Linked DNA regions of Homo sapiens. The protein of the gene in region 2 purifies or fractionates together with the protein of the main gene of each other region. This does not show direct contact. Each region holds a gene or a part of one and is shown on either strand. Other genes may lie near its edges.

Region 1 (4,817 bases), on a different chromosome or scaffold from region 2:
AGTCTCTTCCTCTATAAATGGAAATAATTTTGCTCTGCACAAATCACAATTAGCATGTTTGTGGGAAGTCAAACTGTGAAACTCAGCATAACTGAAAAGCAATGTACCACTGTTGCTTATGTGAAAACTCTTGTAAAGCTGTCAGGCACCATGCACCATCTAAGTACAGCAGTGTTAGGTATGAGCCCATCAGTGATTAGAGGGGATGTGGGGTGGAGAGCGGGTCTCTGAGCAGTGGATCTCCTGGCTTTGGGGAAGCTGGCTCGTTGGCCATGCCAGGAGCTGAACCTGAAGGTACTCTGTGTGTCCTCTCAACTCCACGGGCCCCACATTCGCATTTTTTCCAATTCCCTCTGGTTTCCATTTGCTTCCTCCCTCTAGCCCCCTGGCCATGTCCGATCTCAACACGAAGTTTCTGAGCTTTTCTCATTTTGTTCACCATCTCCAGAACATCTCTGCTTCTTTTACTTTTCAAAGAATTTAAACTTGAACTCTGCTCACTCCTGCCCATCACCAACCTGAGCTCAGAGTTGCTGAGAAGGGAAAGCACCCTCATAAGGAAGCTCCTCCTTTCCTTACATCATTAGACTTGATCACAGACAGCATCTCCATCTCCACACTACTCTGGCCAGGTTGTGCCTCAGTCAATTACACAACTGTGTCTTAGTAGCCTTGGTAGGGCCCAAATCAGGATATTCTCTGGGAAGATTCACTTGATACTAAGCCCAGCATAATCTCACTGCATCTAAAATAGAAAATTCTAGACCCACCCCTCCACATCTTCTTATTGATCCCAATATGTGACCCATTTACCATGTGCTAAAATCTCTACCTACTGCTGATTCTCAGATCAGATGGTAACCCAGATTTACCATGGTCCAAACTCTGACATCTGATCAGGGGCATGTCATTCTGGTTCAGGCTGTCAGCCCTGAGCAGGTGAGTCAGTTTGCATCACCCTAAGTGCAGGTTGCCAGGACAACCGTGAGGCTGCATAAAAAGAACCTATGACAGGATGCACATGAGAGAGACAAGTGGCTTCACATTGAAGAAGGGGAGGAGTGCGCCATTGGTTTTCCATCCTCCAGATGCACTGAGTAAGCTCCTACCTAACCTGTGTCCCCTCCTTCTTTGAAACACTTCCCATCCTTTTAAGCCTTGGTAGGAAGGAGAGCCATCTGGAAGCCCAGAATCCTATGGAATGCTAAGTCTCCCTTCTCCTTACCCCTTAGTGTTGGAATTCTGGATACCCAAAGTCTTGGATTTGACCTTTGTGCACAGTGACTGCAAAGAAGCATATTCATATTCACAAAAATGAGCCTTAGATAAGACTTTCCTCCTCTCGTGGGGGCTCCAGGAAACTGAAAAGCCAAGCTTGTTACCAATGCTTGCCCTTCCTTAAGTACATTATTAAATACATCCCCAATAGTTAAAAGGACTCCTAGACACCCAGGCCATTCTCCCTCCTTCTAACCCTCATCTCCTCGGCCTACGAAAGCCCAGCTGTGTGATCCGGGGATTGGTTTCCCCTGTCTTCCCCATCCCAGCATCCTTCCAGGAAATAGCCAGTCTCCCTCTCTGCTCTCAGAAGGCAAGTTTCCTTATCACCTGTGAATCACAAACCCACAGAGTGGCCAAACGTAGCCGAGCTGATGCAAGACCCTGGCAAGGGGAAAGCTGCAGGTGTGTTTGTGCTGGGAAGAACTGTGACCCTCACCTCACAGACACCTCCTCTCCTGATTCTTGGAAGGGTATAAGGACAGGCCTTCCACCACCAGTCAGGCACACTCTACCACCATGAATCCATTCCTGATCCTTGCCTTTGTGGGAGCTGCTGGCGAGTTTCATGACCTGCCTCAGGCCCCACCCACCCCCTTTCCTGGCAGACACATGCCCTGCCATTCTTGCCACCTCTCCTCTTTTGACTGCGCTCTGATATTCTATTTCCTCCATCTGACATATCTCCTTCCCATCCTCCTTGGGCTCTCTTTAAGCCTCACCTGTTTCACCTTTTCCCTCATTTCACTCCCACCACTGTCATTCATCCATATCCGAGCTGTGGTTGGAGAAGCTGGGAAGGGAGACCAGGTGGGGCTGGCCCATGAAATGAAGTGGCAGGCTTCAGGCTTGGCTCCAAGAGCACCAGTATAGCACCACTATAGCTGCTCTTAACCTCGAATGCACCTGGGGAGGTTCAAAAATTACTCATGCCAGAGATTCAACTCTAGAAGTTCTAACTTCATTTGTCTGGGGTGCAGCCTGTGTACTGGGCTTTTAAGCTTCCCAGGTGATTTTTAACGTTTCCAGGCATGCCGCCAAAGTTAAGAATTGCTCTTCTATTGGCCAATAACAAAGTCTACCTTTGTTATGCCAAAGTGAGCCTGGGGCTGCCCTCAACTCTGCCCTCACTGCACAGATCTGAGCTATGGGGGAAGCTAGTCATGGCCAGGTCTACCCAGACAGGGGGTTTTCCTAGCTTAGCCAAAGTATCCTGACAATCCAGGGCTCAAATAGCCAGGGCAAGTACACAGGTGATGAATAAAAGAGAGAAGCACTCAGTGGGTGAGACAACAACATACCAACTGCTACCCCACTGGAAGCATTTTGAGGACATTCCTTGCATCCTCAGCCTGGTGTCCCCAGGAGAGATCTGAGCCCCTGCAGGGTACCTAGCTACGTGCCCTGCAGACACAGAGACTTGGGAGCCACATCCAGTGATGCTCACCAGGGGTGGCAGCGCTCCCTCCCTTGCCTGGCCTCACTGGGCTTGTTAAGGATTTCTAATTGGCAGGAAGCAACCGCAGGCTGGGAGCACCACCCCTAACATGCTACTGACTTGCCTTCTCCCTTCCTATTTCCACTCCAGTTGCTGTCCCCTTTGACGATGATGACAAGATTGTTGGGGGCTACACCTGTGAGGAGAATTCTCTCCCCTACCAGGTGTCCCTGAATTCTGGCTCCCACTTCTGCGGTGGCTCCCTCATCAGCGAACAGTGGGTGGTATCAGCAGCTCACTGCTACAAGACGTAAGTGTGGGGCCCCTGACTGCAAAGCTCCCAGCCAGGCTGCCTGGGAGAGCTTGGCTTCAGCCCAGGGAAGTACTGAGGTTGGGTAAGACGGATGGGAGAGGTGGTGGAAAAGAAAACTTGTTGACAGCAGCTGACTCTCCAGAGCAAGGCCAATCCATGAAACAGCAAGGGTTGTGGTCATAAAAGCAGGCAGGGATAATCTTGGAGTTGTCAGAGCTAGTGACAAAAGCAGGCAAGTACCTTTTGCTGGTTAGCTACACATTAAAGCGACCTAAGACAGAGTTTTTGAAAATACTGATGCCTGTGTCCTACCCCAGGGCAATTAACTCAAACTTCTCAGGAAGACAGTGTGAATACCAGTGAGTATTTAACACTCTACCTCTGGTAACTGTAGAGTGTATAGACAGAGCTGAGAACCGCTGCCTACACGAAGAACTCTCAAACCTGAGTATGCGTCAAAACCACCTGCAGGCTTATTAAAGCACAAATCACTGGGTCCCATCCCCAAGGTTCTGATCAGCGGGTGGGGGTAAGGACCAAGAATTTACATTTCTAACAAGTTCCCAGGAGATGCTAATGCTATGGCTACCCTTGGATTAGATTACACAGAAGGGTGGTGCTCACTAGGCCAAGAAGGGAGGGAGGAACAGGCGCTGTGCGCAGTTAGCAAAGACCTGGGGTGAAGAATGCTGGGAAAACTACGAGGAGCTCTTTGTGCCCACAGTGCTAGTGACTGTGGAGATTTGTGGGAAAGAGGCTGGGAAGGCAGGTTGAGGAGCAGCCTCTGGTGGGATCCCTTTGACTCTTCCCCACCCCACTACCACCAGCCTCTGAAGCAGAAAGGTCCTGGGTCTCACACCTGCACTGACCCACATCCCTCTCCTGCCCATGCAATATGGCCACACACCCCACCCCATGCCTCCAGAGCTATCCATGAGCAGTGAGCTTGAGGACCCTGGGGAAGGTGGGAGGGGTGCCCAGGCTGTGGGAGAAGGTCTTCACCATGCCTGCCCTGCCCATCAGCCGCATCCAGGTGAGACTGGGAGAGCACAACATCAAAGTCCTGGAGGGGAATGAGCAGTTCATCAATGCGGCCAAGATCATCCGCCACCCTAAATACAACAGGGACACTCTGGACAATGACATCATGCTGATCAAACTCTCCTCACCTGCCGTCATCAATGCCCGCGTGTCCACCATCTCTCTGCCCACCACCCCTCCAGCTGCTGGCACTGAGTGCCTCATCTCCGGCTGGGGCAACACTCTGAGCTTTGGTGGTGAGTGGGACCCTTTGTCCTTCTACTTCCCCCCATCCTCACAATTTCCAGAACGAAGCATGCCCCTTTATTTGAATCCTCTTGCCTCCCGGCTTAAGACACATTTCTAGTGCCCATTACACACAGTCTCTGCACTGGGCACCAGAGAGATGCAAAGTCTCAAGGACTTGGCTCCTAAAATCAAGAGATAGGACAAATGGAGAACTTGCTGTGATCACGTCTTGGGAGGGGTTCAACAATGATCATTCTGGAAACTAAAAGCCAGAGTCCCTTGCCAGAACTTACGTTTTGGAGTCCTCTCCAGAGGCAGTGTTCCTCTTCAATGTTCCATCCCAGATTATTGTCTCCTTCTCTGGCCTCACCCACATTTCTACTTTCTTTGATCTCTTCCTGATCCTCACAGCTGACTACCCAGACGAGCTGAAGTGCCTGGATGCTCCGGTGCTGACCCAGGCTGAGTGTAAAGCCTCCTACCCTGGAAAGATTACCAACAGCATGTTCTGTGTGGGCT
Region 2 (4,760 bases):
TCCCCCCAGAGCTTCCTTTGCTGGCTCGCTGCCCCCCCGCGACCCCCAGCACCCCTGCCTGGGCCCGCACTCATACCACTGAGGCACTCAAGGATGAGGTAGAGTTTGCCACCAGTCTGGAAGGCATAGGCCAGTTCCACAATAAAGGGGTGCTTCACTGACTCTAGAATGTTCCGCTCAGCCCGTGTGTGTGCTGTGTCCTTGGCATTGCGCACAATTTTGGCCTGGAGATACAGGAATTGGTTAGAAACTGAGGCATCCAGGCTGGGCACAGTGGCTCACACCTGTAATCCCAGCACTCTAGGAGGCCAAGGCAGGCGGATTACCTGAGGTCAGGAATTTGAGACCAGCCTGGCCAACATGGTGAAACCCCATCTCTACTAAAAATAGAAAAATTAGCTGGGTATGATGGTACACGCCTGTAATCCCAGCTCAGGAGGCTGAGGCAGGAGAATCGCTTGAACCCAGGGGCAGAGGTTGCAGTGAGCTGAGATCACGCCACTGCACTCCAGCCTGGGTGACAGAGCGAGACACTATCTCAAAAAAAAAAAAAAAAAAAAAATGGGGGCAACCAGAGCTCCTCAGACCATCCATCTGTTTGTTAACTGCTGCATCCTCTGTCACTGCATTGTATTTCTCCATAATTCTGCTGCTGTCAGCCACCATCATTTTCAGGGATGGGTTTATCCTCTAACACAGGGTTTCTCAACCTCGGCACTACTGACACCTGGGACCAGGTCATTCTTTGTTGTGGGAGGCTGCCCTGCGCATCGTGGGATGTTCAGCAGCATCCCTGGTCTCCACCCACCGGGTGCCAGTAACACTCCCCTCTTGCCTTGACAATCAAAAATGTGTCCATGCCAGGCGCAGTGGATCACACCTGTAATCCCAGCACTTTGGGAGGTTGAGGCAGGCGAATCACCTGAGGTCAGGAGTTCGAGACCAGCCTGACCAACATGGTGAAACCCTGCCTCCACTAAAAAGTACAAAAACTAGGCCAGGCACGGTGGTTCATGGCTGTAATCCCAGCACTTTGGGAGGCCAAGGTGAGCGGATAGCCTGAGGTCAGGAGTTCAAGACCAGCCTGACCAACATGACAAAAACCCATCTCTACTAAAAATACAAAAAAAAAAAATTAGCCAGGAGTGGTGGTTCACGCCTGTAATCCCAGCTACTCAGGAGGCTGAGGCAGGAGAATCACTTCACCCTGGGAGGTGGAGGTTGCCAGTGAGCCGAGATCGCACCACTGCACTCCAGCCTGAGTGACAGAGTGAGACTCCGTCTCAAAATAAGTAGGTAAACAAATAGAAATACAAAGATTAGCCAGGTGTGGTGGCACAAGCCTGTAGTCCCAACTACTCAGGAGGCTGAGGTAAGAGAATTACCTGAACCCGGGAGGCAGAGGTTGCAGTGAGCAGAGAGTGCACTACTGCACTCCAGTCTGGGGAACAAAGCAAGACTCCATCCAAAAAAAAAAAAAAGCTAGGGACGGTGGCTCATGCCTGTAATCCCAGCTCCCAGCACGTTGGAGGCCAAGGCGGGCAGATCACCTGAGATTAGGAGTTAGAGACCAGCCAGGCGAAACCCCACCTCTACAAAAAAGTACAAAAATTAGCTGGGTGTGGTGGCAAGCGCCTGTAATCCCAGCTACTCCGGAGTCTAAGGCACGAGAATCGCTTGAACCTGGGAGACAGAGGTGGCAGTGAGCCAAAATCGCGTCACTGCACTCCAGCCTGGGTGACAGAGCAAGACTCCGTCTTAAAAAAAAATAAAATAAAATAGTGTCCAGACACTGTTGTCAAATGTCTGCTGGGAGTCAAAATTGCCCCCATTGAGAATTACTGCAAGACAATACACATCACAACAGACAATAAACCAGCAAACGCCAAAGTCAGGGATCCTCCTCCACTGTGTTCCCTGCTGTCTTCCCAAAGCCTGGTACAGCATGTTGGGAATGGCAGCCACACAGTATTCGTTGGCTGAACGAGTGACTCACCTTCCTTAGGACTTTCATGGCATATATTTTGCCCAAGTTGGTGCCTTGCACCTTTCGCACCTGGAACACCTGTAGGGCAGGGGAGACAGGATCAACTTCCCTCTCCACATCCTATCTTCAAGAAGCCCCACCCTGAAGCTCTGGCTTTGGGATCAGGAGGCCTAGGCCCTGCCAAGGGTGGGGCAGTGAAGATTTCAAGTCCGATTGGAGAGGATTTGGCCTTCCCTCCTTTATGTTTCTGGCTCTGAATCCCATTAGAGGCCCTGCTGATTCACAAGTCTAATTTGTTTTGAGAACCCTTTGCTGCCTCCAGATGGAGGCTGTGAGGCCAGGAGGAGGGTGCGCCCGCCCCTACCTTGCCATAGCCCCCCTTGCCCAGCACACGCAGCAGCTCAAAGCAGTGGGGCCCGATGCGCTCTGGGCCAACGTTCACGCTGGTCTCAGTCAGCTCCACCTCTTCATAGTGTCCCACAGGCCTACGGACACAAGGAGTTAATGAGGACAAGGCTCCAGTGCTCCCCAGTTCCCCTTCCCCACTCCATTCCCCCCTCCCCCAACACGACCCTCACTCACTCTAGGCCAGCTGCCCTCAACTCGGCAAGGGGACATGCGTCCTGTGAGAAACCGAGGGGTAAGAGCCAAGGAAGGTGCCAGGATACCTCCCCGCTCCCGTTCAGGTTGGACTGCGTGGCCCAGGAGAGAAGGGTGTCAGGGATGGCAGCTAGTAGGGGATGGGTAAGAATTGGGAAGAAACCGAAGGCAGGAAAGGGAGAATCGGGAGAAAAGGCTGGGGTTCTGGAAGAGAGGTCGGGGTGAGGGTGGGATCAGAACTTAATAGAGACCGGGATCTGAGAAGGATCTGGGTCTGCAAAGAGTCGGAGCCCGCTCTGGGCGTGCGGAGCCGCCGCTCCGGCCTCGGCTGGGTGACAGGATCGGCTCCAGGATCCAGTCGCGCCAGGGCAGGGCACTCACCGCGGGGCTGAGCTCTGGCTCGCCCTCGCCCTCGCTGCCTTCCTCCGTCTCCAAATCCAAATCAAACACGGCCGCCATGGCGGCGCCGGCCCCGCGGGCCCGTCGGCCCGTACCTGGCCGCGCACTGACTGACAGTCCCGGACCTAAACATCATCTCTCCGCGACGGCAGCTGCGCGCGCCGGTGACGCAAGGGATCTTACTCCCCCTCCGGAAAATCGCTTAGCCTGGTGGGGAACAAAGATGGCTTCCGTCGCAAGGCCTCTCGGGAATTGTAGTCCTAGAGTGGCGAGGCGCCTAGCCTTCAGCCTGCAGAATCCTTTCCGCAGGACCCTCGGTCTTCCCAGCAAGGCTTTCTGGGAGCCCGTTTTGGTTCTACGGTGTTTTGAGTTTGGATGGAGCAGGGTCGGAAGTGTATGCAGGTGTGAATGTAAATGCAATCCCCAGCCCTGTTGGAGACGGGTACTGCCAGGCCGGCTGCGTGATGAAAGGCAGGTCGCGTTGCTTTCGGTTCACTCCAGAAAGGGAGGCGGCTGCATCAGGGTCTCCTCAAAGTGCCTCTGGCTCGAGGACCCTGCAAATCGGAGCATTTACTGAGTGGCCAGCTCACTGCCAGGCTATGTTGCCAGGTTCCCGCCTTAAATAGGGTTTTGGGGGTCAGTGATAGACCTGTAAATATGGGATTTTGTTGGCGTTTACTCCCTTCTTAATTTAAGCACATTTAGGCACCTGGTACAGAATAGACACTTCAAAAAACGTTGTTGAGGCCGGACACGATGCCTCACGCCTGTAATCGTAGCACTTTGGGAAGCCAAGTTGGGAGGATCACTTGAGGCCAGGAGTTCAAGGTTACAGTGAGCTATGATGGTGCCACTGCACTCCAGGCTGGGTGACACAGTGAGATCCTGTCTCAAAAAAACAAACAGGCCGGAGGCGGTGGCTCACACCTGTAATCTCAACACTTTCGGAGGCCGAGGTGGGTGGATCACTTGAGGTCAGAAGTTGGAGACCAGCCTGGCCAACATGATGAAACTCTGCCTCTACTATAAATACAAAAAATTAGACGGGTGTGGTGGCGCGCACCTGTACTCCCAGATACTCGGGAGGTTGAGGCAGGAGAATCGCTTGAACTCGGGCGATAGAGGTTGCAGTGAGCCAAGATTGCACCACTGCGCTCCAGGCTGGGCGGCAGAGTGAGACCAAGTCTCAAACAGATAAAACCCGAAAACCTGGCTGGTCACGGTGGCTCACACCTGTAATCCCAGCACTTTGGGAGGCCGAGCCAGGCGGATCACCTGAGGTCGGGAGTTCAGGACCAGCCTGACCAACATGGAGAAACCCCGTCTCTACTAAAAACACAAAATTAGCTGGGCATGGTGGTGCATGCTTGTAATCCCAGCTACTCGGGAAGGCTGAGGCAGGCGAATCACTTGAACCTGGGAAGCGGAGGTTGCGGTGAGCCAAGATCATGCCATTGTACTCCAGCCTGGGCAACAAGAGCGAGACTCCATCTTAAAAAAAAAAAAAAAAAAAAAAAAAAAAAAAAAAAAAACTTTATGGTTTTTTTTTCTTTGTTTTGTTTAGTTTTTCAGACAGGATCTTACTCTGTCACCCAGGCTGGAGTACAGTGGCAAGATCGTGGCTCATTGCAGCCTTGACTTCTTGGGTTCCAGTGATTCTCCCACCTCAAATCCCAAGTAACTGGAATGACATAATCACATAATCTTTTTTCTTTTCTTTCTTTCTTTCTTTTTTTTTTTTTTTAGAGGGGAGGTCTTGTTTTGTTGCCCAGGA

What was found.
Region 1: the proteins of RPS6KB2 (region 2) and PRSS3 purify together in Homo sapiens (affinity purification with mass spectrometry, with the first as the bait; one large-scale study listed by BioGRID). This does not show direct contact.

What each region holds. Positions count from the first base shown.
Region 1 is NC_000009.12:33,793,777-33,798,593, forward strand, and holds the start of PRSS3 (trypsin-3 isoform 2 preproprotein), read left to right. Parts: upstream 1-1,784; 5' UTR 1,785-1,797; coding exon 1,798-1,837; intron 1,838-2,866; coding exon 2,867-3,026; intron 3,027-4,052; coding exon 4,053-4,306; intron 4,307-4,591; exon of another isoform or gene 4,592-4,709; coding exon 4,710-4,817. UniProt on the Homo sapiens protein: Digestive protease that cleaves proteins preferentially after an Arg residue and has proteolytic activity toward Kunitz-type trypsin inhibitors.
Region 2 is NC_000011.10:67,426,832-67,431,591, reverse strand, and holds the start of RPS6KB2 (ribosomal protein S6 kinase beta-2), read right to left. Parts: upstream 3,099-4,760; 5' UTR 3,047-3,098; coding exon 2,969-3,046; intron 2,611-2,968; coding exon 2,570-2,610; intron 2,473-2,569; coding exon 2,352-2,472; intron 2,066-2,351; coding exon 1,997-2,065; intron 225-1,996; coding exon 77-224; intron 1-76. UniProt on the Homo sapiens protein: Phosphorylates specifically ribosomal protein S6. Seems to act downstream of mTOR signaling in response to growth factors and nutrients to promote cell proliferation, cell growth and cell cycle progression in an alternative pathway regulated by MEAK7.